Homo sapiens: one gene and its partners. The protein of the gene in region 1 interacts with the protein of each later gene in a biochemical or structural test. Each region holds a gene or a part of one and is shown on either strand. Other genes may lie near its edges. The genes, in order: KDR, CCDC88A, VEGFD and GREM1.

Region 1 (7,365 bases):
TAAACATGTGCCATGGTGATTTGCTGCACCTATTAATCCATCTCCTAGGTATTAAGCCCAGCATGCATTAGCTATTTTTCCTGATGCTCTCCTTCTCCCCAACCCACAGTAGGCCCCAGTGTGTGTTGTTCCCTTCCCTGTGTCTATGTGTTCACATTGTTCAGCTCCCACTTATAAGTGAGAATGTGTGGCGTTTGGTTTTCTGTTCCTGTGTTAGTTTGCTGAGGATAATGGCTTCCAGCTCCATCCATGCAGCTGCAAAGGACATGATCAGATTCCTTTTTACGGCTGCATAGCATTCCATGGTGTATATGTACCACATTTTTTTTTATCCCACTGACCTTCTATTATGAAAAATGCCTCCACTTTTGCACAGCCAAGAACACTGCATGCCTGGCAGGTGTAGAGGCCTTCGTCCTCCTTCCTCACTCTGCGGATAGTGAGGTTCCGGTTCCCATCCTTCAATACAATGCCTAACAGAGGAAGAAAACGATCATTCTCATTTATGATGATGTAGTCTGTGAAGTTTTTCAGGGAAATTTAGAAAATATAAATGCTGCCCTTCATCTTGTTCTATTATCTAACTCTGTAGAGTCACATGGGATCTACTGCTGACTAATCTCCTATATGGCTTTCATGAAAATTCAACAGGGCCCCATACTCCAATTCTAAGTCTGTGAAATGAGCCAGGTCATGGACACCAATACTGCTTTTTTTCTACATTACATCAAGAAATAATATGGCTTTTTAGATAACATCCCTGGGAAAGTTCTGCAACCCAAGAGTGATAGCCAAATTCTATTTACCTGAGTCTTCTACAAGGGTCTCATTATCTTTAAACCACATGATCTGTGGAGGGGGATTCCCAGATGCCGTGCATGAGACTTCGATGCTTTCCCCAATACTTGTCGTCTGATTCTCCAGGTTTCCTGTGATCGTGGGTGCCACACGCTCTAGACACACAAAAAGAAAATCACAGAACATGGAATTATAACTTTTGAAATGGTTCTGGTATCAGCAAACTTTTAAACAGTTTAAATTTAGTAAAAAGGAACTTGTTGATATATTAACTTCTGGGAAAATACACTGGTCACTGGGTAAAGTTAAATGAAACAAGTCAGTCAGGACACTGCAAACAGATTAATGGCTTTTAACATTCATATTAGTGATACTAGCTGGTAATCCCATCACAAAAGAAAGGTTCAGGGTCACCTTTATGGATTTTTCCTCTAATTAGACACAGCCTCCCCAGGTGAAAACTTCCCTCCCATGAAGATTCTAGTCAATAATACCCTAGAATCCCTTCAAATTTCTCTTGGAAGTGCCAAATTTTAGTATCATTCAACCAATAATGCCTTACATTTATTTGGCAATTCTTATAAAACTTGTTTACACAATTTGTGTTCCTCACTAGTGATCTTATGTAATGAGCAGAATAGGACTGTTAGCGTTATCTCACAGATGAAATAAATGATGTTCAGCGACATTAAACCACTTGTCCATGTCCCTGCAACTAAGTAAACAGTTGAACTGTTTACAGAATCTGGTGAGGCTAAAAGACCAGTTCAGTGCTATTTCCACTAAAACACAAACAAAACAACAATACCCTAAGGGAAGTCTTGGATTTAAAGAAAATGAAGCCCATGAGTATTTGTTTAAGTGTACAAGAACACTTTAGATTTATTCTTTCTTCAGATCATCAAAGTGCTGTGGAAATATCTTGTCCCAACCAACTGAACATCAAAAGGAATCATGCTGAAAAAATCCACGTCAACACTTAGCAAAATGAGATTACCTCAACAGCGTACTACATTGAAGTCTAAGCAAATGTACTGGATTCTAGCCTATTTCTAAGAATAGGTTTTAGGAAAACAAGTTAGGAGTCCTTAGGGAAGCAAAGCAGCTAACTGCGAGCACATATTTTCTGGGCACAGCTAGGCCAGGAGCCTACTTCACATCTCTTTCTCAATTCTGCCATAACCTTGAAGCCAGACAAGCCAACAGAAAATCCATGTGATCTATGTGGTGTGACTTGAAGGATGCTGGGGATGACTTGACCCCAAAGTATCTCTTATTATGACACCTGAGTCTTAAAACTAGCGAACTTTATGCTAGTGTCTGTCAGAAGGTGCCTCTTCAAATACGCCAAGGCCTCTGATGAAGACGTTACCCTCTAAAACTGTGGTATAGATGAATTTACTTGGGCAATTTCCTTCCTAACAGTAAAAAAAAAACAGAGGGCACATATATCCTAGGAATTGGAAAGGGACACCACAAGAGGAGAAAATGGAGAGAAGTGGCACAAAGAGACGCTCCCCAAATTTGCCTGATTTTCCCACAGACAAAGCCATGGCTGCCCAGCTTTTGCACAAGGCATGAGGTTAGACAAGGGGTAGACAGTGCCTCTATGGAGGAATTTACAGAGCTATCTGCTCACTGAAGTGATCGTCCCATTGACCTTGGGCTACGCTGGATCATGTGGGATGACCCAGAGGTACAGACAGTGAATGTAGCTTCCTTCCCATGGAGTCTTCTAGGTCTTAAACGCAGCCCATCATCCCACTCTTCATGCAGCAGGTGCCTTATTGAGCAGTTAGTATATGCTGCTATGCTCTATGACTAGAGCTATAGCAGGGAGCAAAACAGAGAACAATTCCTGTTCTCATGGACACAGAGACCTCACTGTGCTGTGACTTCCCAGTGGTTGCCTATGTTCTCCTCCTTTCCTTCATGTTTACCACTGTGAATTTCTGACACTCTCCTAGCTCATAGCAGGCATTCCACAAATATTTGTCTATTTAAATAAATGGATGCCCAAGATAAGGCAGAAGTTTCCCTGGTTCAAGCTAATATCCCTTGCATATACTAGTGAATTACTCCATCATCAGGTTTTGTTATTTTCTCCTTTCGATATATCATTTCATTATTATTAGCTTCTTTCTTCCTCAAGGACTTTCGGTGAAGAAGTGTGCACCAGTTTACAACATAATCTCCTAGAGGACAGTAATCTTTGCATAGCACCTGAATTGCACTACATTTAAGGCATTCCAACTGCCTCTGCACAATGATCCAGAATTGTCTCCCTACCTAGGACTGTGAGCTGCCTGACCACGCAATGTCTTTTCTTGGTCTTCCTGTCTTGAGCAAGGCAGACATAGTCTCCTTGGTCCTGCAAGGATGCATTCTTAAGCTCCATGATCAAAATGTCATTTGTGCTATTAGAGAACATGGTGGCATTCAATTTCCAAAGAGTATCCAAGTTCTTGCAAACAGGTGTGGGCAACTCTCCCACATGGATTGGCAGAGGCTGTGGGCCAAGCTTGTACCATGTGAGGTTCTCAAACGTAGATCTGTCTGCAGTGCACCACAAAGACACGCTCTCCTGCTCAGTGGGCTGCATGTCAGGTTGCAAAGTAATTTCAGGACCCCCTAAAATGAAGAGGCCATAGTTATTGAATGGTGATTTAACTTGGTACAGCTCACTATCATCTTGCTGCTTTCAGACTACTACAAAGTACCAAAAGAAATGAAGCTCTATCCGTTCCAGGTGATGTACTACAACTTGACAAACAAACTAGACAATTCAGGTCCCAAAATATCTTATTTGGCCAAACACATTACTTGAAAATGTAAACGAATTCCTCAGATATTTACCACATCTCCACTATGAGCTCTACGCAATGTTTAATATATTAAAAATCCAAAGCAAAATCTCTAATTCTAACAGAATTTTAAAATTAGGTCTTCATTAACACTAACACTCAATGATATGAAAGCTACATTTATGCCAATGAATTAGCCCTGGCTATAATATTCCATTCAGCACAATCAGCTAAAGCTTATCCATAAAACTAAGATGCACAGGCAAAATCGGCAGCATTGGGAGGGCACTGCTCCTATGTCCTTCTGATTGCCTCCATAAAGCCCACCCTCATCAACTGTTCCACAGCAAGCCCACCAATATGTACTGAAGCTCAATAAGCCAGGCACTGTGCCAGACTCTGAAGACTGAGATGTAAATACCACACAGAGCTTGTGGTTTAAAGCATCTGTGAAACCATTCTCTCTCCAGTGTAGTTAGACGCACTGACTTCACATAAGCCCAGGAGATACCTGAGAAGTTGTAATTTATGAATGAAAGCATCAATGATCAATCCAAGTCCTCTTTCCTAAATGCCATGCCACTCACATGAATGGCAAAAACAACAGGGAATTACATAGCTTAGTACCCACTGTGTGAGTGATCCAACCCAAACCTCCAGAGAAGAGTACTTACTGGTCACGTGGAAGGAGATCACCCTCTCTCCTCTCCCGACTTTGTTGACCGCTTCACATTTGTACAAAGCTGACACATTTGCCGCTTGGATAACAAGGGTACTTACAGTCTGTGCGGGGAAAAAACAAATCCCAGGCCATAAACAACGCGGCTGTTTGTGCACAAGCACTCAGTCCAGCAGTCTCCACAATCACTCCAACCTGCCTATGCCATTCCCACTTCTGCAGCGGTTGGACACGCTCAAATTTATGCAATTGCAGGTTGAGTATCCCTTACTCAAAACGCTTGGGACCAAAAGTGGTTTGGATTTTGGATTTTTTTTTTTGGATTTTGGAATATTTGCATTGTATACTTACCAGTTGAGCATCCCTAATCTGAAAATCCAAAATGCTCCAACGAGCGTTTCCTTTGAGCACCATGTCGGCACTCAAAAAGGTTCAGAATCTGGAGCATTTTGGATTTGGGGTTTTTAGGTTTGGGATATTTACTCAATTTGTATAATTATGCTGCTGTGGAGCTCACACATTATATAAAAAGGGCTTTGGAAGCCATGAAACTAATGATGTGTTTTAATATGATATGATACACATTTTTTCATTCTCATGTTTATAAAATCAGAATCACCCTACACAGATGCATAGATTTAATGTCATAGATGTTTTTATTTTTCTCTGATAAGCTATTAATAAGTTAATGGTACTGCTAAAAGTCAATGGTATTTTCAAAGTGACTTAATACGCTCTATTTAATCATCCAGACTATTTGATTATTAATCTCCAATATGCCTCACATATTATTGTACCATCCTTCCATTAAAGAGAGAGAGATTTTCAAATTTTAAAACTTCAAACTCACTTTGTTTTTTCCTTCAATTAGAGCAAATTGATTTTTATTAACTTCAATTTTATTTCCTCCCTGGAAGTCCTCCACACTTCTCCATTCTTCACAAGGGTATGGGTTTGTCACTGAGACAGCTTGGCTATAAGAAAGAGATAACAGCGCATATTATGATTTAATTTTTCTTTAATTAGAGTCAAGAGTAAGGAAAAGATTCAGACTTTGGTTATTCTGTTCTTAGAAATAACTTCCAACGCAGCCTACCATGGTACAAGACTTGGCGCCAATTAAAAATAGGCATTGACAATGAAGGAAAAGGTTCTAGGTAGATTCATTCAGGATACAGGAGGGAAGCAGCTATTCTGGGAATAAACCTTCATTCATAAATTGGATCGACAAGACAATTCAAGTTAATTTAGTTCAAAGGAAGGCAAGGAAACTTAGAAGCCACTGGGCTCCTTAAAGTAATTTCTCTGGGACCATGGTCTCTGTGAAGGAAATGATCAGCAGCTGAGGAAGAAGCTCATAGTGGCCATTTCAAAAACAACAACAGGAAGTGGACTGCTTAGGGTGGTGGTGGGTTGGCTGCTGTTGTTGTGTTTTTCCCTAAGGATGTCTGGACTTGTGTCAGAGCATGATAAGCTGGGCCTGAGACCCTGAGGACTGGGGCTGGGTCTATCACTGCCTCTCATCTATCAGCATTTCCTCTGAGAGATGGATCTTCACACACACAAGAAGGAGGGATGTGGTATTCACCAGCCGATTGGTATCGGGAGAAAAACCAAAGACTGGCAATTAGCAAACTGAGCAAATAGCCTGTGTTTGGAGAAGTGTACCTCACGGCTAACCTAACAAGGCTGAGCTTAGCTAACCCCAAAGGAGGATACTCCAAGCAAAGACATCCCCTAAAATGTAAGACACAGAGAAAGATGGATGGAGATTCAGGCTACCTCTTGAGAGAAAACTTTTTTTGGTTTAGGCTTCTCCATTTAGGATGGAGTCATATCATAGCTCAGCTGTAAGAAATGCAAGATGGCAGGAAAGCAAAGAGCATGTGGCCTTACTCACCTGGGCTCGTTGGCGCACTCTTCCTCCAACTGCCAATACCAGTGGATGTGATGCGGGGGAGGAATGGCATAGACCGTACATGTCAGCGTTTGAGTGGTGCCGTACTGGTAGGAATCCACAGGAGAGATTAGAGATTTCTCACCAATCTGGGGTGGGACTGAAGATGGGAAAAACAACTTTTGAATTGTCAGTCAGCTTTGAAGAATGGGAAATAGAGGATTTTAGCAACTAAAGCTGACTTTCTTTAAGCATATGATTTTGCTTCCACTTTCTTTTTCGAAGAACACCTAGATGTGGAAACAAGAGACCTGAGTTCTAGTGATACTCATAAAAATAACAACTAGCCAGGCATGGGGGCTTATGCCTGTAATCTCAGTATTTTGGGACGCCAAGGTAGGTGGATCGCTTAAGCCCAGGAGATCAAGACCAGCCTGGGCCACATGGTGAGACCCCATCTCTACCAAAAAAAAAAAAAAGGAATAAAGTAACGAAATAAAATAAAAATGACAATAAGCTAATAATAATAATAAACTAACAAGCTGAATGACTTTATGGAAGTGTTGAAATCCTGTGCCTCTCATCTGTATTACAGAGATAGTTCTCTCTGTCCTCTCAAGTTTAGGAGATCAGGGAAAGGCTACAGAAAACAGCTGAAATAGCACAGTAAATACATTTATTATGTGCCAAGCATTGTTTGAAGTGCTTTGCATGAATTCATTCACTTAATCCTCACAACCACTATTACTGTCCACAGCTTTATACGTGAGAAAAAAATGAAACAGAAAAAAATGACTCGCCCAAGGTCACTCAGTTAACGAACGGCAAAACCTGGAACAAACCTAGACACTCTGACTTCTGAACCCAAACACGTAAACCACCTCATGTTAAAGGAAGGTGTAAATCTTTAGAGAATGCATTCCTGCCACCATCATCTGAGTTTTTCATTCTCTCTCCCTCTTCCTCCCTCCCTCCCTCTCCACTCCCTTTCCCTCTTCCCCTTTCTTCCTTCTCCCTTCTCTCACTTCCTTCTTTCTTCTCTCCCTTTTTCCTTTCTTTCTTTTTTGACTCCAAAGTCAAAACTATTTCCTTATTACTGTCAACCTAAAGCCTCAGATTATGCTTTGAAGACTTGACTTCTTTTTTATGTTTATTTCATATAGCAGAGAATTTGCTAAAGTGAATAA
Region 2 (7,286 bases), on another chromosome or scaffold:
CTTTCCAACTTTCCTCTCCTCTCCTCAGTTGAGGTACAGGACAGAGCAACGAGTCCACTGGTCTCAGCAGAAGTCCAGTAGAGAATGAAATCAGTGTGCTCATTCCCTACTGGGGAAACTGATGCTCAAAAAAGTTAAGCAACCTGCCTAATTTCTCTTTCTCTCCCTGTATTATATTTCCTCTTAAAACTATCTTGGGTAATTAAAATATAAGCCTTCTGTGTTCCTAGGTGATTTAAAAATCTTAATTATTAGATCAAGGCACCCTTTTAAAAAGTCTATTAGAGACTAGATTTCTTGATGACTTAAAAAAAATCTTCATGAGGCAATGGTGCCATTCTTTTTTACAAAGGTTTATTGAGACATAATTCACATTCCATACAATTCAGCCATTTAAGGTACACAACTCAATGGCTTTTAGTGTATTCACAGAGTTGTGCAACCATCACCATGATCGTTTTAGAATATTTTCATTTTCTCAAAAAGAAATTTCACATCCCTAAATCATCACTCCTATTTTCCCCCAACTTTCCCCCAGCCCTAGGCTAATCTACTTTCTGTCTCTATAGATATGTCTTTTCTGGACATTTCACATAAATGGAATAATACAATATGTTGTTCTTTATGACTTTCACTTAGCATAATGCTATCATCCATGTTGTAGCATGTATTAGTACTTCATTATTTTTTATTGCCAGATAGTATCCTATTATATGGATATACTGCATTTTATTTATTCATTCATCAGTCCATGGACATGTGGGTTGTTTCCACTTATTGTCTATTATAAACAATGGTGCCATTCTGCTGCTGCATTTGTGGTATTTTTCTTGTACTAGCTTACGAATGTGATTACCTTTGCAAATCCGTACTTAAAAATATTTGTCACCAAGGAAACTGGTTCTGGATGAGTCTATCACTTCCTATAGTGTAGATCAAGATAGACATGGGTAGAAGTTCATATGGGTGCTTTTGGTACATGGGTTGTGTTATTCATATGCAACCTGAAGGAGAAAGCCTCAATTGTGATACACGGGAGACAGTCTTTCTCTAGAGATTTCTAAATGGGACCATGGTCCTTTCTAACCATTTAGTTTCAGATTAGAAGACAGCTGAGCAAATAACTTACATCCTAACCAGGTGGGTATGATTTTTCCAAACTCCTTTCATGCTGGATTTAACCTTCCAAGAAAGGATGCATTCAGGACACATAAATGACTACAAAGTACAAAACAAAAGTATTTTGAAGAAATCTTAAGAAATTTCTTCCTAAGTGAAAGGTGGATAGGAAACTTTTGGATTTAATCTTACAGGATGTTGCAATTCAAAGACCATTAAACTGGGTATAATGTACAATCCCTCTTTAGCCAGACAGAGAAGATTACTGGTTGTACTCTTGAGATATTATAAAGCATTTTTAAGGCTGCTGTTAAACTAGGGAATTGTGAATTGGTAGGTTTTCAAATAAGTTCCTCCAGACCTCAGTCTGGTCTAAAGTTTCCTGTTTTTACAATTAACTCCTCATGTTTCTTTGTTGAGTGTGTGTGTGTGTGTGTGTGTGTGTGTGTGTGTGTGTGTGTGCGCGCAAAACCTAAAGATAGACCAGAAAGCATCTGGGGCCATCTGGCTCTAGAGAAGAATCCAGATTTCTGTGAGGGCTGGGTACTAAATTGCATAAACAATACTATCTTAATGTATGACTCCTGTGCTAACCCTTCAGTCACCACTTCAAAATGCCCCTAACCTGCTGTATTTGGTGTTAATACTTTTTGGTTTTTCGCCTATGAATGAAGCAGATTGATTTGTCCTAGGATAAACCCAGTATAGGCATAATTACTTCCATATTGTTTTGTCAAGCGTCTGGGGGATTACAAAGAAAAGTGGGTATGTCAAGCACTGGGCTGCTCCTGAAAGCAATGCTGTCTCCTTGGTGCCCACTCTCCTTCTGTCTGTATTTCATTTGCCAAATAAAGAACTGCTATTAAGAAAGAGTTATCAGGCCAAGCGCGGTGGCTCTCACCTGTAATTCCAGCCCTTAGGGAGGCCGAGGCGGTGGATCACTTGAGGTCAGGAGTTCGAGACCAGCCTGGCCAACGTGGTGAAACCCCGTCCCTACTAAAAATAGAAAAATTAGCCAGTGGGTGGTGGCGGGTGCCTGTAATCCCAGTTACTTGGGAGGCTGAGGCAGGATAATCGCTTGGACCCTGGAGGTAGAGGTTGCAGTGAGCTGAGATCGTGCCACTGCACTCCAGCCTGGGTAATAGAGACTCTGTCTCAGAAAACAAAACAAACAAAAAAAGAAGGAGTCACCAAGCCAGGCGTGGTGGCTCACACGTCTCGTCTCAACTGCTAGGGAGGCTGAGGTGAGAGGGTCACTTGAGGCCAGGAGTTTGAGGCCAGGCTGGGCAACACAGTGAGACTCCCATCTCTAAAAGGCTTTTTAAAAAGTCATCAAGAGCAGATGGAAAAGATTGCTAGCAACAAGGATGTCTGAAGGCTTGTGTACTGGCTAGGGAAATGCAAGGTTCTACTTGTACATCACCTAGCAAAGTGCCACATGAATGCATCCTAATTTTAATTAAGATGATTTTCAAAGGGCATTTAGTTCCCTCCTCAAAGCAAGATCCTTTCTCCTGTAACTGAAGCAGAGAGGTTATATTTCAAGTTTTTCATAAAGGTTCTTTATTTTGAAGGAATAATGTTAAAAACAACATTAATGACATTTATAGAACACTTAACTATAAGCTGCCATTTCATTTAACCCTATTATTAGCCCTGCTTTACACGTGACGGAATCGAAGCACAAAGAGACTCAATAACGTGCGTAGGCTCACACAGCTGGTGCATATTGGAACCAGGCAGGAAGACTTCAGAGTCCAGGTTCTCAACTACCCAATTAAGAAATTCTGCTCTTTCTTAACTGTGTTATGACAAAAACATTTTTACTGCTAATTTAAAATATATACTCCGTGTAAATATTTATGTAATGTAAACATAGCACACATTATAAAACTATAATATTATCTTTTATCAAAAAAAGATTGCGTTCTATATGCCCATTTTACCCCGGGAAAAAGGTCTTTATTTTCCTTTGAAATGAGGAGTAGCATTTGATTTTGCCAGGGAACTTAAAATTATTTCAAGGTCCCAGTCGTACGTGGCATGGAGATTTATGACAAATATGTAATCTGTTTATTTGTCACCCAACTTGGATGACTTCTAAATGTTTCTTCTTTGTAGCTCTTGATTTTGCTTGGGTTTCCCCCGACCCATGCCCAAATAGTAAAAAACAAAACAAAACCAAAAAACAATGTCTGAGTCATGTTTGCTCCAGTCAGGGAATACCAACGTGCTGACAGACAGCTCTGGTTTTTAAAAAATCTTACTGTATGTCACTTGCAACTTTGAAGAACATTCATGCGTTAGTGGACTGCATTTGGAAGAAAACAAAAAGGAGAAAAAAACCCCCACCAAGTTGTGGCTCAAGTCCCTCTGCCATTTGCTGCAGTGAGTTTTCCTATTCCATTTTGCTGGGGAGAAGGCATGCTTTACAGAACACATCAAACTGTCCGAAAAAGGCTGTCTGCATCCCTCATGTTTATAAGAGAAGGATTTCTTTCCCCTTCCTTCACGTATCAAAGAAGTCACTCGGGGAGGAAATAAACCATAATTAGGCATGAGCGAGCGAGCAGACAGACCCCTTGCTCTGCCTTCCCTGTCCCCGCCCACCAGGCAACCGTCCTGGGCGCAACCGAGGAGCGGGTTGTCTCCGCAGCAGCTGCAGCGAGCGCGCGCCCACGCCCGAGCCCGCGCCCGCCGCCAGGATCTGGGCGGCGGCGAGGCTAGCCCGGGGGCGCGCTCGCTCGGGAGCGCGCTCATGCAGCGGTTTTCTTCTCCCACAATCCAGAGGCAGCTGCACGGGAGGGGCGGGGAGTCGGCGGAAGGATATCGGCGCGGAGGGAGCAGCGCGCTCCCTTTGACGGCGGCCCCCGGCATTGGCGGGCGGCGCTGGCGGGCGGCGAGGGGTGGGGTGTGATGCGGCACTGCGGTTCTGAGGCCGTTACTCCGGCTTCTCCATAGAGGGCGGAGAAGGCTGGAGCGCGGCGGTGATTTTGTGCCAGGGATTCCCAGAGACGCGCTGAAAGGCTGGCAGGGCTTAGGAAGCTGGGGGGTTAGGGACACACATTCAAGCCCCCACCCCCGGGAGGGGAAGGGGGCTGGAGGCGAGGCTTGAGGGCGGCGGAGGAATGGTGTCTGCTCGGGGGGAAGGGGCGAGCCCTGCCTGTTGGTACTGAGGGGCTGCGGGCAGTGGAGGCTCCGCGGGTCGAAAGCGGCTCCATGCCCATCGGTGGGTGGAACGTGTAGAGGTCGGAACGCCGAGGTCGAGTCTGGTGGCGCCTCGGTATCCTTAACGTGGTCTCTGTTTAACGTATTTCATTTAGCCCCCGTTGGGATTGATTCATTGGGAGCAGTTTCGCTGGTCTGGATCCTCCAGGAGCTGGACAACCTTGACGGGCTTTTTGTCTTGGGTTCCAGCCCCCTTTCCCTTCCTCCTCCTCCAGATGCCTTTTCTCTGCCCCTCCTCGCCCGGTACAGACATTTCCAGCGCAGGCTGCTGCTCGTGGTGTCCGTCGTCGAAGCCACTTCTTGGGATTTCGGCTCGTTTCACTCTGGGGTGTTTTTTGAGGAGGGAGAGTGCCCCCCTCCTCCACGATGGGATTTTTCTCCCTTGCCGAAATGGACTTTCATTGATTTCTACTTACTTCCACGTTTAGTGACCAATTCCCTAGGCGTATTTTTGTGGTAGTTCCTTTTTTCAAATACATACTCTGTAAAATGGAGAACGAAATTTTTACTCCCCTTCTGGAGCAGTTCATGACCAGCCCTTTGGTCACTTGGGTAAGTGGGGTGTCCTTTATTGTATATTTTGCTGAGTTATTTGTGGCTGCAGAGATGGAGGTGGGCGTTCATGTCGTGGTGATCCTTCTGTTTGTTCTAGGTTAAAACGTTTGGACCTCTGGCCGCAGGAAATGGGACCAACCTTGATGAATATGTGGCTTTGGTGGATGGGGTATTCTTGAACCAGGTCATGCTCCAAATGTAAGTTCTTCCTTCTTTCCTAGGTAACGTTTTCTTTGAGAAATAGCATATGGTGAACTTTGAGACACGATGTTTTAAGCCCCTAATTTGGTTCATTGGCCAGAAATATTCAGGTGGTTTAAGAATTGGATCTTGAAAGGAATGCTAATGTTATGGGCTCAGCCCATTATCACAACCTAGATATTTTACCTGTTAAAATTGTGAAACTTTAGTTTTTCATTCTGTCAACCATGTATTGTCACTTGTCTTCAGTACTGAAATCCAAGCCACATTGTGTATTCTTTGATAATTTGGTAAAATAAGAGAGAAAATGAGAATCTGGTTTCCTAAGAGAGGAAAAAAGACTTTACTGTGAAGTTATGTGCATTTGATGCAGAAATGTTTCTTATTAACCTTTATATCTAGAAATAAATGGCTCAAAATTTGAAACTCGTTAAGTAATAGCAGATTTCAGAAGAGAAAATTTCAAACAGTTCTGATTGGTGAGGACTCTTGCTGTAGTAAATAATTTAAATGCCTGTAATAACTAAAGCCTGATGAGATGATTTATTGTGTGAATTATTAGGTTGCTTAATATTTTAGGGATCATTTTAAGGTATTCTTACAGGTTTTGAAATGCAAATAACAAGTCTTGATAACAATTAGATAACGACTTATTGGGCAAATCTTTGTCTTTTGTGTTTATAATATTGGGTTTGTACTAAGTAGGAAAGTATGCTTTTGAGATGGGAATTGAATAGTGAAAGTATATTGGTAGCTGGATCAGTAAAATTAAAACTCAGCTTTTATCTAATTACAGCTATTGTAGCATACGTGTATTCTAAGTACGCTAATGTAGTTTATCAAACTGAATTTTTCAGTTGTGCTCAAAGTAATGTATACTTAGTCTTATTTCTCTTTAATAGAATCTGATGAGAAGAGGTAGTTTGGAACTTTTATATGTATGGGAAATTGGTGTGTTATCAATAAATAGTTGTTACTAGAGAATAAGTCTACCATTCTGCTCTGATAACCTTATCAATTTTGTATTTTATTGGTTTAGATTTTTATGTTTAAGAGGGTAGAAGTCACATCTATAAAAAATTGCTCTCGTGTTAACTTCTCTGTGTGCTCAAAGAGATTTGTGGGCTGTTTTTCATGTACATGTTGATCCTACAGGGAAGTATTATACTATTATACATTTTCAACCAGTGTTTTGTTTTCATAGGCACCCAAAGAAATATATATGTTATCTAAATATGTATATATTTATTTTTTTCCTTAAGAAAGGAAAAAAGAGCGTAGACATCAATTATTTCCAGGGTTAGTAAATGTATTTTTGACAGCTGTGTAATGGAATTATTTTTTATCCTCAAAATATCTGACTATTTCCTAAGCAAAATGGTAGGATAATAAACTGACTTCTCTTTTGGGGAACCTACATGACAGAAAGGGTAGCCATTACAGTAGATACTCAGAATTTGTTCCCCTGTGTCTCTTTATTGTGCTTATTTTTAGACGGAAGATTTTGAATTTGTGTGCTAAAAATGTGTGTTCACAAAAATAGGGAAATATATTACTTTAGTTTTCCACTTTAATGGTTTTTATTTGAATGATTCTTTTTCCAGAAAAATTTAGATTTTTTTTTTGCATCCTAAATACTTAGCTGAGGTGCTAAAAACAAATACGTTAATTTCCACTTCAAATGCAGTTTTATGCTTAAAAAATATATGTATATTTTGAAAATGACGGTATTCCAAAATAGTGTTTGTCAGGTTGCTGTTTTTCATGAGGACTAGCTCCTTTCCAAACCACAAATCTGCTTCTGTATTTTCAGTTCCACCTCTCAGTTTCTTTAGATTTTTTTTCGGTGTCCTAATTCTGTTGTAAATGACCTATAAAATTAAAGGAAAAGAAAAGAAAAAAAAAGTATACTTTTGCTTTGTTTGAATAATTTGCTAAAATAAGATCAAATTTATCTTAATAAATTATTTAACTGATAGGGCAACAAAATATACATTGTTTTATAAGCTGTATTTTGCTAATTTTGAAGTCATTAGGATTTCTGTTAAGCACTTTACTTAGATTAATGTATGCTTTAATGTACTCTATTATAAAGTGTCAGTTGTAACTCTATACCTAGTAAATGTAAAAGTTAGGCCTAGTCTAATTTCTACAGTACATTTAGTTACAGAATTTGTGAGCAA
Region 3 (7,286 bases), on another chromosome or scaffold:
CAGCTAAATAGTATACACAGTGGATTTGAAATCTTAAGTTGAGATTTTCAAACAGATTTGTCTCAGTTCACATGTTCCATGCACTGCTGACTCCAAACAGCTATCCTTGCAAACACAAGTGGTAAGACTAATGAAATTAGGAGGCCTTACACCCAAATGGCATTAAGCACAATCGTCCAGAGCACTAGTAGCTATTTCATGATTGCTACAGGAAAAAAAAAAATCTTCACAGATACCTAGAACTATCGTAGAGGCAATGCTAGTCTAAGCTGGAAAACTGGACAATCTTCAAAGCTAGAAAGTGAAAACTGGGCTGGGGGTGGCTGGAGGACAACCTAGGAGCAAAATTGGCATCACCATCCATTCTGGAAAAGAGGTGGTTAGAAGAGGGGAGGGTGAGGAGAAAGAAATACATATGGACCAAGTACCGAGGAAGACCATGAATTTCTTATAATAAATAAAACATTTTATTTCAAAAAGTAAAAAAAAAAAAACAAAAAATTCAAATACCACCACCCTAAACCATTACCACCATGAATATGTTTTCACACTACATTTTAATTTTAACAAGAAGAACTTTAACATTTAGAAACATTATTTCCTCTTAGATTTTCTTTTCTTAAAAGTTGGGGAAAAAAGAAAACTATAACCAATATTATATATCTCATTATCCCTTACCACTCAGTCATATCTATGCCAAAACTTCTGTTTAGCTATAGGCAATCCTTTCCTTCATATCAGAAATAATTTAATTGAGCGAGGGGTAGGGTGGATATAAGTTCAGTATATGTAGCTTCACTTTTTAAAGGAAATTCTGATATATTCTGAAAAAAAATTGCTAATCGTATTAGTAAGTATATAATGCTGCATCCTCCACGTGTAACAACTTGTTTTCTGTCACATGCAAATTCAGCTGCTTTCCTTCGTTACTCCATTCAACAAATTTATATATTAACAGTACATTCAAAGCATTTAAAACTTCACAGTGCCAGCCGGGCGCGGTGGCTCACGCCTGTAATCCCAGCACTATGGGAGGCCAAGGCGGGCAGATCATCAGGTCAGGAGATCGAGACCATCCTGGCTAACACAGTGAAACCCTGTCTCTACTAAAAATACAAAAAATTAGCCCGGCATGGTGGCACGTGCCTATAATTCCAGCTACTCGAGAGGCTGAGGCAGGGGAATCACTTGAACCCGGGAGGCAGAGGTTGCAGCGAGCTGAGATTGCATCACTACACTCCAGCCTGGGTGACAGAGTGAGACTCCGTCTCAAATAAATAAATAAATAAATAAATAAAACTTCACAGTGCCCAGGACACCTGAGACATTCTTGGTGCTTGTGCTCTTTGAAAGAGCTGAGCAACCTAAAGAATATGACTTATGTCCAACAATTCAGTCTCCTTTATTATACCATCAGATAAAGTGATGTTTTACAAGGAAAATGGAAATATTTTAAAACTCGAGGAGCCCAGCACATCTAAAGGATTTCTGTTTCATGAACTTACGAAAAAGCTGGACAGTCGGAAAAGTCTTACTTGCTTCAAACAAGTCAGACCGTTTTCTCCTGTTACCTATGCTTACAGTCAGATTCCCATTTACCTACAATCTGGCCTTGAGATCCAATATCAAGGCTGGTGGCAGTAAAATGGAGCCAAACACTGTGATTTCTCCCATGTAAATTTGGAATTTGAGAAGTTAGAAAAGTGCTGGCTGCCAGACAAGGTGACTTCCCACTCACCTCCAGCTCAGTGTTCAACATTTTTAAATATCAGCCCCCACCCTCGCCAGGCCACCAACACCAGCCAGGAGCCTTTGAAGACACTTTCCCCCTATGCAATTTGAATGTATAACGTATTTTAAACTACATACCATATGTACTGTATGTACGTCTGTGCGTGATGTATCAAAAGGGTAAAACTTTTTCATCCCTCCACGAACCAATTTTCCCCTGCTGGGGGCGATATCACCCCTGTTGAAAATGCACGTCCTAAACAACAGCTACAAAAACTCAAACTCACATTTAATTGTCTTTTCAAGGCCAGAAGTTCCTAAATCAATAATGATTTAGCACCACTTCAGTCAAAACAATTACATCCGAATCATTTTCAAAATAGAAGCTTAAAATATATATAATCCATGAAATGCATAAAATTGGGCTAAGTATTGTTCCAGCAGTCAGCAACATTCTGGTTAATTTTTTGCATTACTCTCTGTTCGTTAAGCTCTATTTGATGCTTGCTCACAGAACCAAAGATTTGATTAGTGTTGAATTTTACACCTTTCAAGAAGCGAAAAAACCAAACACTCTCTGAGAAAACATTTTTCTGGATGGCAGCAATTGGTAATTTGCAAAAGCAGATAGAAAATGTTCATAGAAAGCACTGCAATTTTCAATTTACCAAACGAATAAACTAACCTCTGCTGCTCACAAAGACCTGAAAATAAATGGCCCACAAAGTTATCAGTCATAAAAACAAATCAATGTTTCATTAAAAAACCACTGTGCCATCTGCATATGCAACCGAGGAGAAACTTCTCCATCCAAAAAGATTCCAGACTGCTCATGTTCTACCATAACTTCAAAAAACAACCAACCCCCACCCCAGCATTTTCAAATACTCATGGCCAGAAGTTTAATAAGACTAAGAAACAGAACAGTCACCAAGAAATGCAGGATATATCCTGTCCAGTCCACTACTAGGATGGTTCTGCATTTTTATATTGTTTCAAAAATAGTGAGGGCAAAGAAAGTCCTCTGTATGAGCCAATAAAAAGAACTTCATCACATTAAAAATTGAGCTCACCTACCTTCACTGGTCCATGTTCATTACTGGAGCCCTGCACCAGCTGGACGTACAACATCATGAAAACATTCACCACTACCCACTCTCTGTACATTTTGAATATTTCAATATCCACTGATTACTAAGCAGTTGACATCAGGCAGCTAGAGAAAATTGTTTCAAAAGGCATTCTCCAGAAGGAAAGTTTGAAACCTCAAAACTTCACACAGAAAACCAAATAATCAGTTCTGATCAAAATCCAATGAAATTATTTCAATTAGGCAAGGTACGCTTTTTTTGCACAATCTTAGGGGTGGGGAGAGAGAGATGAAAAAAATCAAAATGTTCTCCAAAAATAATCAGAAGGTGGACATGTCTTCTACCTGAAATTAGAAAGCACTCTAAATTTACTTCATGTCCAGAAAATTAAAAAAATCTCTCCAATGTATGCCGCAGGTTCTAGTTGCTTTGTAAGGAGGTGGTGTGGCCACCAATGCTTACAGCTACAGAAAGCTGGAACCCAACTCTGGATTGAAACTTTTTTGCACAACCTTCATGGAAGCTTGCAGAAGCATGTGTCTTAAATCTGACACAGATTTTGGCAGAAAATGCAGAGAAGTCTTGGCTGTAATCCTGTTGCGTCCCTACCAATAGCAGGGCAGTTTTAAGAACTGACTCAAATGTTCAGGGCTGCCGTTATTTTAAAGCAGATAACCTGTAACATGAAACCCCAGCACATAGCTTTGACCTTTGTATCTCAGTGGGATTGCTTAAGAAGGGACCTCAGATGCTCATGCATCTGCTGCCAATGACACACAGAAAGCAATCAAATATGATTTTTAAAACCTGCACATGCACAAAAATAATAAAAACATCCATCCATACATGCAAAAAAAGGCAAACATACACAAAACGACTTTTTAAACAGAAGCTTAGTAACTTAGGTATCTCAAATGAAAAACACTGATTTTTAAAGAAACAATGATTAGGTTTATTTGCATGTGCCAGGAAATATCCTACATTTATTGTTACAAAAACCATGTTATCACGTTAGTGTGGAATTCTTTAGAAGCACCGGCTAAATAAGCTTTAGAAATGGAATGCCTTCAATGGCTCAATCTCAGAAATGGCAAAATTCTAGGACACATCAAGACCTGCTCTTCCGCTTTCCACTAGTTCCCAATCTTTGATTTCCAGGTTTTGGCCCTTTCAAACCCATTTTTTGCGTTTCTGAAATCAAGAATAGCTTGAGAAATCTCTTCATTGGTGTTCATCACAAATGGACCTAGGGCAGAAAGAGACATTCAGAAAGTTCTGGGTGGCAATATTTTCCTCTACCACTAGAAATGATATATATTTCTGTAGTTCTTAATTTAAAACAAAATCCAAGCACATCCGAAGAGTAAAAGTTTATTTTCACAGTGTTCAATCCCCAAGGACTGTAAGATGAGTTTCTTGACTAGGATTGTATATGATTATTGATTATAAAGACGAAACTTCAGATAAATGCAATGGCATCTCACCCATTCAGTATAGGTTTCTCACCAGCAATGGTGATCTTTTTTATTAAAAAGAGTCTTAGATTTGGTTCTATTACAACCAATTTTGTAGTTATTTTTATAACATTAGCTGATGTCAAGAATTGAACCCATCTGATACAAAGAACTGACAAATCTTATCATAGCTTTGGTGTCTAAGCAGCATATAAGGCTGTATACTTATTTGAGGATTCTAAGTCATTTTTTGAAAATCAGCAGCACCTATTGACAATAAACAGAAGATTATAAAAATTTCAAGTCGAAGAGCATCATTTTTTAAAAGTTTTCTAGGGGTTGGCAAATGTTTGCTAGGAAGGGCTAGATAGTATGTATTTTAGATTTTGTGGGTCAAACAGTGTCTGTCTCAACTACTCAACTCTTTCATCAAAGTGCAAAAGCAGCCATAGATAATGCAAAAGTGAATAGGTATGGCTGTGTCCCAATAAAACTTCATTTACAAAAACATGCAGTGGGCAGATGTAGCCCATCGACCATAGTTTGCTGACCCTTTTGTCTAATTGCTGGGTCTGAACTCGGATTTTGCTAAAAATGTACAAGAAGTCCTCCCCTAATCTACCAGGAGGCAATGTGTGTTTCTTCCCCTTTCTTCATATATTGTAGGGGCAGAGAGGCACTGGACTGTCTCACCCCCATGATCTGCTAGATGAACAAGGCCAGCTTTTATATGGCATTGACAGTGTCTTTAGAGCAGTTGACAGACTTGTTCACTCAGTGTATGTCCTCATCCAGCCTGCAGAAGTTCCTGACATTCCTTTTATGGAACTGCCTGCTCTAAGGGGCTTTCTCTGGGAGATTCTGATTAATATACAACTGTATTGCTTAGAGAAAATAACATATTCAAACTTCTTAACCATTGTTATCATATCAACATGGATTTGGTGATCACTATAATTTAAATCTTCAGAAGGAAGACACAGGATAATATGTCTTGATGATGCTGAAATCTTTGGAGAGGATGTGGGGAATAGAATACAAGTAGAAAGAAAACACCCAGGCATCTAAATCCATTCATTCAATTACCTATCTATTATGTACTGAATGCCCATTAAATGACAGACATTGTGCTAGAAGCTAGAGACATAAAGATGAAAGACAAATAAATGGCAGACTCCCTCTCCTCAAGGATTCAAATCTATCACACAGATATGAAAAGAAATCATTACAAAACTGTTTGAAATATGGAAGGATAAAAGTGTAAAAACTATAAAATCAACACAGAAAGGGGGAGGAGGAGAAATCCAGGAAAGGATTCACAGAGGGAGTGATGTTTGAGCAGTCACACACGGAGGAAAGGCATGTTCAGGCTTAGTATGCTGGAGGAATACTGGAGGGGATAGGGGTACAGTGGTGGAAGGAGGGATCAAAGGCGGAAAAAATGGCGATCTGAAATATAGGAAGAAACCAGACCCTTCTGGGCTTTGGATGCAATCTACAGGAAGAAGTTTGGACCTACTTTTGCAGGTGATTATGAATCACTGTAAGGTTAAGTAGGGAGTAATATAATATGATTTATAATTTTTAAAGAAGACTTTGGCATCAAGGTAGAAGAGCAGGTGTCTAATTTGGGAGGCTGAGTCAATGGTGGAATTGTTAAGGGTATTTGAGATACAGGACGTGGGAGGCTTTGGATGGAGCAAGGTGTTCAGTTCTGGATATTTTTTGTTTTGTTTTTCTTTTCTTTTCTTTTTTTTTTTTTTTTTTTTTTTTTTTTTTTTTGAGACCGAGTCTTGCTCTGTCGCCCAGGCTGGAGTGCAGTGGTGAGTGGTGCGATCTTGGCTCACTGCAACCTCCGCCTCCCGGGTTCAAGTAATTCTCACACCTCAGCCTCCCCAGTAGCTGGGATTACAGGCACGTGCCACCATGCCCGGCTAAATTTTTGTATTTTTAGTAGAGATTGGGTTTCACCATGTTGGCCAGGCTGGTCTCAAACTCCTGACCTCAAGTGATCTGCCAGCCTCGACCTCCCAAAGTGCTGGGATTACAGGCATGAGCCACCGCGCCCGGCCCAGTTCTGAGTATTTTAACATAGAAGTACTAGAGACAATAAAGTGGTTTCCCAAGCAGAGGTTTTTGGTACATTGTTGAAACTATGGATCTGGAGCTCATGAGAGAAATTTCATCTGGAAATGGAGGTTTGGACTATATCAGGTAGGAAAGAAAAAGAGAGTTAACATATGCAGAATAAACAATAAACCCAAGAGGGTACCCTGGGGAAGACAACTTTTTAAAGGACACGCAGGGGAAAGGGAAATGCAACTTGGAAGATGGGAGCAGGTACTGAGTCAAGGACCAAATTCTTGTGCCTCATAATTTTGCTATGGTTGGGACTTGTGGAGCAGTACTCCCATCCCCCAACTGTTTTCTGTAAGAATGGTGTGCTTCTAGGCTTCCATTTTGACACTTTCTGGGGTAGTCTGCCATGTTTCTCAATTTATAACGTGCACATGAATCAGCTGGGAATCTTATTAAAATGCAGATTCTGATTCAGGAGGTCTGGAGTGAGGCCTGAGATTCTGCATTTCTAACTATCTCCCAAGTGATGCTGATACTGCTGGTCCATGGACCACACTTTAGGAAACAAGTATAACCTCTGTTATACAGGGAAGCATTGGAAGCTTAGAGTCCCCTAAAGCTAACTGATGAAGCTTATCTCCTCAAATCTTCAAGGAGAAAACTGAATCCAGAAAGCATGTTTTTAAATTGATCAACTACAAGGGTTGTGAACAAGAAAATTATTTGATAGTTACCTATAATTCTCTTTCAAATTATAGCTTTCATCACTTCTCTAATTAAGCCTCTGAAGCCCCCCTCTTGTATAAAATGGTGTGTCTAACCTCTTGTTATGTAGAACTTTGGTATAGTGGAGCGAACATAAGACATGGGGTCAGGAGACTAGGGTTCGAGTCCCAGCTCCACTGCTAACAATCGCTTTCCATTAGAGAAG
Region 4 (8,352 bases), on another chromosome or scaffold:
TTTGTTTGTTTGTTTTGTTTTGTTTTTTTGACGGAGTTTTCACTCGTGTTGCCCAGGCTGGAATGCAATGGCGCTATCTGGGCTCACCACAACCTCCGCCTCCCGGTTTCAAGCAATTCTCCTGCCTCAGCCTCCCAAGTAGCTGGGATTGCAGGCATGCACCACCATGCCTGGCTAATTTTGTGTTTTTAGTAGAGACGGGATTTTTCCATGTTGGTCAGGCTGGTGTCGAACTCCCGACCTCAGGTGATCCGTCCTCCTTGGCCTCCCAAAGTGCTGGGATTACCGGTGTGAGCCACTGTGCCTAGCCCAGCCAGCAGTTTAAACCCAATTCTATCTAGCCCCAAACACAGGTCCTTAACCACTGTCCTATTGACACCCAGTGCTGTCCTTAACAGTGGGTCAATGGATATGTTTTCTAATGCAATACAATTTGAAGAGTGCTATAAATAAAATAATTATCTATTTTGTATCTTCATGTTCACATGTGAATAAAAAGATTTCTCTTGTCCCAGGAATTCCTGTTGTACTTTGAATTTCTAAGAGCATATGTTAAAACTAAAGAAAATTCCTTGCAGATCGAAGACACGGGCTGGTAGCACTTGCCTGATGGTTGCCTTTTGGTTAGAGGCTGCAGTCACCTCCCCTAACCACTGTCCCCCACCTGCCTTTCCTTTACATAAAAGGTTTATATTTCCTGGCTGTCCTTTACTCTCTGTTGTGGAACATGTTCCACAGCTTTGCTGTCAACAAGCAGTTCTTGGGGGAGGTGTCTGCGGCATGAAATTTCTTTGCATTTTATCACTTTTAATACTTGACCATTCAGACTGAAGGCATCTTCGGCTTAGTTTCAAAGACAGGGTAGGCAGCCCTCATTCAGAGATGTAGGACATAAAAGGTTTTTATCCTTCCCTGTGTAACTACTCACATAAAGACCGCATTAGCCAACCTGGATTTCCTACAGAGCGTGGGTTACCAAAACATTTCACTAAAAATGAACTTTTAAGAAAATAGGAAACCTGTGAAATTACAAAGTTTACAAAAGACTCTAATTCCTACAATGACCTGGAGGTTAAACACACACACACAGACACACACACACACACGCACACATACTGCCACTACCCTGCTAAAAATCCCTGAAATAGTTAATATTAACAATTTGACAGTGCCATTTATCCAGAGATAGTAATCAAATCACCTACTGTTATAGACTTGGCTTGGGGGGCAGTGAGAATATATAGTTTTCTTAAGATCTTTCCCTCCTTGCTTTGAAAAGTACATCCCCCCCTCAAGACTCTCATGCTCCCCCTCCTTCCAAAAAAAGAGAAAAGGGGAGGGGGAAGCCCTAGGGATGAAAGAGGACTCCTCACCCTAGAATGGGGTTATCTTAACCTCTTCTACGCTATTTATTTAACTTGTGTGTACAGCCAGAAGGAAGCCACTACTCTGGGGTCCCTGGGACAGCTTAAAACCCTAGTGACCCACTTAACACAATAGATTGTTTTAATCAGTTCGTGTCCTGGCACCATCTCGAAGGGGAACATAAACAGACGCGCACACCGCTCAGATTTGCTCTTTCCAGCAGGAGATCCAATTACCTATCGGTGGTCACCTCTCTGCCCTCGGACCGTTTAAGAGGGGGATTTTAACCCCTAACGCTGAGGCTGTATTTCTGTCTATAAGAGCCGAGATTCGGAGTCGGTCGAGGAGGGGAAGGCAGTAGACGGATTCGACCCGGGAATGCATTAGGGACAGCTCCGGGCGCGCAGGAATTTCTTCACAGCAGAGGCTGGTCACCTGCCGTCCGTCCCTCCCCGCCTGGCCCGGTGACCGTCGCCAGAGCCTGGCGCAGGCAAATAAACGCCAAGCTGGGGCACCCCCAAGGAGGAGCTGCGATCCGAAGGCAATGCCAAGCGAGAGCGGTGGCGCGTCTGTTCTTCCGGAGTCTGTAGTCTACAAATAACTCCGGCCAGCAAGGAGGTGACAGCCCCAATATACCTCCCACTCCCCTGCTATGGCCTTGCTCCGCAAGCTGTGGAGGGGCCAGCGGAGCCAGCCAGGCAGCGAGAGAGAACGAAAGACGCCCAGCTCGTTGCAGCCGCCAACCCGCCTCAGCCGCCAGTCCCTAGTCCTCAGGAGCTAGTGAGGCGCTGCAAGGCGAGGCTGGGGCCTCTAGAACACAGTTTAAGGGGTGCGCGCGGAAGTGGGAACCAGCCGGTGGCCGCTGCCCGGCGCCAGAACGTCTACCATTCAGCCCGGGCGTGCGCGGGGCGGGGAAGAGGCTGGAGTAGAGAAGCGAGCGCCCGCGAGTGCGTGGCCGGTCCGCGAGCGCGTGTGGTGTCTGCCTTGTGAGCACTGCGGGTTCGCTGGACCCCGCGGCCAGGGCCGCGCCCCGCACCGCAGCTGTCGGATTACCCACCGTTCGGTTTTCCGCTGTGGCTGAACACAGCGGCTCTGCCCTTGCCAGTCTCCATCTCACCTCGGGGATCGGCAAATGCACACATCATGGATTCTCCGGATGCTCCAACCCGCGGACTCCAATGGGCGCCCCAAGACGCCCCCAGACCCAGCGCGGCGCCCCAAGCACATGGGACCCTCTCAAGGCAACTCGCCGCGCAGTCAGCGGCCGACTAGCAGGTCCGGATGCTCCTGCGCTCTGGCGGCCTGGACTTCGCGCCCTCGCTAAGCGGGCGCGTCTGCCAGGCGCTGCTGCCACCAGCACCAGGAGCGTGTTCGGGGGCCTCCGGGAGGTGGAAACGGGATGTGGGGGTCATCCTGCCCGCTCCTGACAACTTTTTTTCCTACGTTTCCCTGCAGACCCAGAGCAGCGAGGTCACGGTGTCCGCGGCCTCAGCAGGAAGGACCCCGCGATGGTTCTTCACAATTCACCCCCGCGAACAACGCACCCGAGCCTGCGCGCACGGAGGGCTGCCGCGCGTGGAACTGAGCGGGTCCTGGGTTGGTTTGCGGCCCTCTTCCCTCCGCCCACTCACATCCCTGCCGGGTGCGTCCGCGCTCACCTGTCAGTGCGGCGGGTCCTCGGGGCCTGCGCTTTCGACGCGTGGCGCTGAGTGCGGCCGCGGCCAGAGCCGCCGGGGCTCGGCGCGGGGTCAGCGGGACCGAGAGTGACGCGGCGGCCGTGCACTGGGTCGCCCGGTCCGCGGAAGGCGCACCGAGTGCCAGGCATCGCGCCGTCTCCCGTTTAAATGCCGGCGGCAGAGCGCGGCGCCCGGGGCCGCGCCTCTCCATTGGCCAGGCGCCGCCGCCGCCGCCAGACCCGCTATCCGCCCCCTTTCCCGGTACTGCCCCCGCCCCCCGCACCCCTCCTGCTTCCCCGCGGGGTCCCCTCTCCGCCCGCCTCGCCTCTTTGTCTGCTCCCCCCGCCCGGGCCGGCTGGGAGAGGTCACCCCAGGGAACCGCGCCTGGAATGCACAGCAAATCACATTTTCCGCTCCCGTTGGAGAGGGAAGAGCGGGAGGAAATCCCCCCGGCTGGCGGCCCCTCATTCCTTCTCTGCCCCAGGTCTGGGCTTTCCCTGTCGGCCGCCCGGCATCGCCTGCGTTGGTCCCGCGCTCAGTAGCGGAGACTGCGCTGGGAAGAGCGAGATCTCCGTGGGATCGTGCCAGATTCGGCCATTCTTCCCCTCTGGAGGGAACGGGACTGCGGGATGCTCTGGTCGAGCGGCCGTCGTGGCTCCCCGGCGGCCCCGCCCGAGGCCCCCAACTTCGAGGGCGCTGACCCCGGCGCCCCCGTTAACCTGGCGGGCTCGCTGGCCGCCAGCAGGAGCCTGTCGCCAACATGACACCCTGCTCTCCTCGCCCGCCAAGGGTTCTTTCAGCCCAGATGCCGGCGGCCTCCCCTGTGAGTGTACAGAGGGGAGTCACGGGAGGAGAATAAAACTAAATGACCGTCAAAAGTCAAGGCTTCTGTTCCTAAATTATCTTAAGAGACAGAGAGAAAACAGCCACTGGGCGAGAGGGGTTTTCTGTAGCATATCAAAGACGAATAAGTCAGGAAAATAAAACGTTAGATGAGGAAGTAACTTCCCAGAAATTTAGGACAAAAACCTACCGACGTGTAAAACCAATGTCACATTCCGGATACCAAGTACATAAATAGTTTTCGAAAGATGAGCGAACACTTTCATTTGTTCTCTTAGCCTGAAAAATTGGTTCCTCAAAGAGGCCGTAAGTTTTGTGTGTTGAAGCTAAAGTCCGTGCAAAAATTAACACGTCTGCAAGATCTGCAGACCAGCTCCATCAGCCACGTCAAATGAAGACTTTGAAAAAGATTTGCTACAGAAGGAAATATGAAGGTGTCTGTATTGTCTAACGCGAAATAAACAAAACAATGAAATCCATCAAAAGATACTTACGAAACACCCGTAATTTAAGTACTTGACTAGGAAAACAAAACCAGACCAGAAAACAGCCTATTTTTTTTTTCTCTTTAGTCCGGCGTTAGGGGGAAGAAGCAAGAAACATCTACTAGATGCTGTTAGGAACGTGAAATAGATATTTTTAAATAAATGAAGCAAGAAGGACGTCTGCATTAGTATCCTTAAAATCTTAGTCCTCTCAATGTTTTGTTTGTGCAGATGGCAGTTTCTACACATGAACTCGAGGCTGCACTTTACAATTCTCAATCAGTTGTTGTTAAGTCATGCAGTGAGCCACAGTTTGTAGTTGCCTACAGAATGGGAGCATTGAACCAGCTTGAAGACCTGTCTTGCTCACGTGGGCTCCTGGAGAGATAGGTAATCAGAAATACACAAAATACTTAGGCGATGACCAGTTCAGTCGAAGCCCACCACCAAGCTGTATTGGAGCCAGCTGTTCTCCCAACGTGCAAACTGCTGTACTTCTCCCCACAAAAGGGAGCATATTTTACAAATTCATTAAGTCCTCCTCATCTAAAATAAAAGCTTTAGTCACTTCTTTTTTTCCCAAGACTTATATACTGCCCCAAATCAAATACAAAGAAGCTGAAATTACCTCCCAAAATGGAAGTGATTTTTTTTTTTTGGAGCCCTGACACTGTGGTTTTCTCTATCTCCATGTATCAAATCATGATGACTCTTCCTCATGCAGTTTCTCAGGCCATATTTTTTATAATAGAGCCCCCACCTCCTCCCCACAACACACGCCCCCTCTCTGTATCCCAAAGAGATAGAGAGGGCTATGCATCACTGCATCATTTTTCTTCATTCTCATTTCTCTCTCCCTTCTCCCTGGCATTATAGTATTTCCTGCCACTAGAATGTAAGGTTCATAAGGGCAGGGATTTTGTCTAGGTCACTTTGATTACATGAAGCACATAGAATATAGATTGTCTAACACAGCACTCAGATTCAATAAATAGTTGTGGATTGAGAATGTTGAGCACATTCCCACTAAGATTGTCAGCTGAACCAAATGCTGAGGGTATAACCATCGTGGATAGGATAAACACAGGCCCTCACCTCAAAGAATTTATAGTCTAGTATGTTTGTAAATATTTATATAGAAACACAAGTTTTTTGCCCAATATTTGTGTTTCCACAGCTCCTAACAAGTTCTTGCAAACCATTGTCCAATCAGGAGGAAGGCATAAGGATAAAAACTCCCTAGACCGCTCTAAACATGGTTACATAACTAAAACCTGCTTTTAGTAAGGGGAGAAGAAGTAGAATGACTCGATGTAGTCATGCCTAAACCATGATGCCTAAACCACGATCACTAAATGATTAATTTTATTTAATGAAAGTACTTTCAAACTACTTTGAGGTTGTGAGAAGAGTAGATTCTGCTCAGCCACTGGTTCGTAAAAGTAAAGTCCATTTCCTCTTTTTTTGCCCACCTGTGTTTGGAATGTGCTAGCCTCTCTGTAACCCCAAGAAGCTAAAAGAGGGCTACTCCCCAGGTTTGGAGAATAACTTTGAAGACCTTTAGAGAAGAGTTTTTACTTAGATCTGCAAAAGCTATTTACAGCTGTTCATCCAATTGCAGAGACTACGTATGCTGTCTTGCATAGGATTAAAAAAGAATAAAGCCCTTTACACAGTTGGAACTGACCTTGTATGCCCTTTCTAAAGAAAAAAAGTATTAACCTATAAACTTGATAATGATTAAGTAAAAACATATTTACAAGAGTCAAATACCAGTTAAATGGATCATATTCAGAATGAATTTTTCTTATAAGTTAGTAAGAAAAAAATCCCCACAAATAACCCAATAGGAAAAAAAAATTGCACATGGCCAAAGCACATGGGCAGGTAATTCACAAAAAAGAAACCTGGACAGCCAGTAAATATAAAAAGATGCAACATTACACCAGTAAATCAGAGAAATATAAACTGAAATGAGAAGATACTGTTGCTTATCTACAAAGTTACCAAAGATCTAAAAGTCTGACAATATCCAGCAATGGAAAAGGTAGAGAGAAGCAAGCAAGCAAATGCATTGCTAGTGAGAGGGTAAATTAGTACCATCATTTCAGAAAGTAATTTGTCAATTTGCATTAATATTAAACATGCACTTAGTATGCCACCCAGACATTACACTTCTAGGTAAACACCTTAGAAAAATTTGAACGTGTGTATGAGGACTAGAAACTTGTATAAGCATGTTTATCAAGGTATTGTTTGTAACAATCTTAATGTCCATCAACAAATATAGGAGAAGGCATAAGAAATTATTTTATTCATATGGCAAAATGCTACATAGCTAATAAAAGAAATTGATTAGATTTTTATATTTTAACATAGAGCTCAAAACATAGAGATGCTTTTTTTTAAAAAAAAAAGGAAGCTGCAGAATGATATAAGTAGTATGATACCATTATGTGTATTTTATAGTAAACATATAAAAATAGCATAAATTGCTTGTGAAACATATGGTCATGTGCATGGATAAATAGTGACTTGGAATCCATACCTTTAATGATGTTCACCAGAATGAGGAGGGGAGGAGGTGGATCAGGCATGGACGACAAAAGAAATTTCAACATTACAAACCATTTAAAAATCTTATGTCTTAAAAAAAATCTTGAAAGAAATATGACAAAATGTGGACAATTTGAATTTCTGGGTGATGGGTACATGGATGTGTTTGCTAGATAACTCTCTCTACATGTTGATAATGTTTTAAACCCTCAAATTTAAAACAAATGTGATGTTTCTATTATGATTTCAAGAGTGATTTTGAGCATCATTTGTAAACTGAACATTTTTGCTTCCCATGTGTTCTTTGTAACAAGCTCCAATCTGAGTAGGCATGCTTTCAGAATGCAAACAAGCCCTTATGTAAGTGTGTATGTCTGCTGACCTGTCTGAGGTGTATGCCTAACCAGTTTCCTGTGTATGGAAAATGCACGTGCATGTGAAAATTCTGGACAATGTTGCCAAATACAGGTATATGGAATGAGTTATTCAGGACCATTGTAATACAATTCTTGCCCTATTTCATGCACATATTTATTGCATATACTCCACGTGCAGTGCAGTATCAAAAGGTGAAGGCTTCAAACTGTGAACATAATCCTTCACAGTCAATAGTTCTGGCACAGTGGGAAAAAGCACGGAACTCGGAGTCAGGAAAGTCAGAGTAAATTCCTGATACTTCCCCTTAGAAGCTGAATGTCTCAATTAGGTATTTAAAGCCTCTGGGCTGAAATTCAACCATCTGTATTATAGGAATGGTGATAACACCCACTTCTGGGTAGATGCTGGAATTAAGTAAAACAAGCTCTGTGAAAGTGCCAGGCACCTAATAAACATCAGTGTCTGCATAGATACTAGAGTTCAACTGGGAGCTAACACAATAAAACAGTAAGTCTAATATCAGCGTCTGCTGGGTCTTATGTATCTTTTTTTTTTTTTTTTTTTTTTTTTTTTGAGGCGGAGTCTTGCTCTGTCGCCGAGGCTGGACTGCAGTGGCGCGATCTCGGCTCACTGCAAGCTCCGCCTCCCGGGTTCACGCCATTCTCCTGCCTCAACCTCCCGAGTAGCTGGGACTACAGGCGCCCGCCACCACGCCCGGCCAATTTTTTGTGTTTTTAGTAGACACGGGGTTTCACCGTGTTAGCCAGGATGGTCTTGATCTCCTGACCTCGTGATCCACCCACCTCGGCCTCCCAAAGTCCTGGGATTACAGGCGTGAGCCACCGCGCCCGACCGGGTCTTATGTATCTTTATATTCACTCTGGGTAACGCAGGGGTGGCACACGGCAAATGCTTGACAAAGCTATGAAATGAGTACTTGCACAGGGAGAAGGAAGGAAGGGAGGAAGAGAGGAGAAGAAAATAAGGGGAAAAGAAAGAGATAGAGGAAGAGATAAAGAGAGGGATGGAGGGAGGAAGGAAGGAAAGAA

What was found.
Region 2: the proteins of KDR (region 1) and CCDC88A form a complex in vitro, tested with the Homo sapiens proteins (one study listed by BioGRID).
Region 3: the proteins of KDR (region 1) and VEGFD form a complex in vitro, tested with the Homo sapiens proteins (one study listed by BioGRID).
Region 4: the proteins of KDR (region 1) and GREM1 interact in a biophysical measurement, tested with the Homo sapiens proteins (one study listed by IntAct).

What each region holds. Positions count from the first base shown.
Region 1 is NC_000004.12:55,101,556-55,108,920, forward strand, and holds part of KDR (vascular endothelial growth factor receptor 2 precursor), read right to left. Parts: intron 6,339-7,365; coding exon 6,182-6,338; intron 5,256-6,181; coding exon 5,132-5,255; intron 4,386-5,131; coding exon 4,277-4,385; intron 3,430-4,276; coding exon 3,088-3,429; intron 954-3,087; coding exon 807-953; intron 474-806; coding exon 342-473; intron 1-341. UniProt on the Homo sapiens protein: Tyrosine-protein kinase that acts as a cell-surface receptor for VEGFA, VEGFC and VEGFD. Plays an essential role in the regulation of angiogenesis, vascular development, vascular permeability, and embryonic hematopoiesis.
Region 2 is NC_000002.12:55,416,630-55,423,915, reverse strand, and holds the start of CCDC88A (girdin), read left to right. Parts: upstream 1-4,059; 5' UTR 4,060-4,836; coding exon 4,837-4,899; intron 4,900-4,999; coding exon 5,000-5,100; intron 5,101-7,286. UniProt on the Homo sapiens protein: Bifunctional modulator of guanine nucleotide-binding proteins (G proteins). Acts as a non-receptor guanine nucleotide exchange factor which binds to and activates guanine nucleotide-binding protein G(i) alpha subunits.
Region 3 is NC_000023.11:15,381,049-15,388,334, forward strand, and holds the start of VEGFD (vascular endothelial growth factor D preproprotein), read right to left. Parts: upstream 3,366-7,286; 5' UTR 2,899-3,365; coding exon 2,809-2,898; intron 1-2,808. Other genes in the region: PIR (pirin), read right to left, coding at 3,956-4,068. UniProt on the Homo sapiens protein: Growth factor active in angiogenesis, lymphangiogenesis and endothelial cell growth, stimulating their proliferation and migration and also has effects on the permeability of blood vessels.
Region 4 is NC_000015.10:32,712,833-32,721,184, reverse strand, and holds the start of GREM1 (gremlin-1 isoform 1 precursor), read right to left. Parts: upstream 3,182-8,352; 5' UTR 3,024-3,181; exon of another isoform or gene 2,821-3,023; intron 2,702-2,820; exon of another isoform or gene 2,320-2,701; intron 1-2,319. UniProt on the Homo sapiens protein: Cytokine that may play an important role during carcinogenesis and metanephric kidney organogenesis, as a BMP antagonist required for early limb outgrowth and patterning in maintaining the FGF4-SHH feedback loop.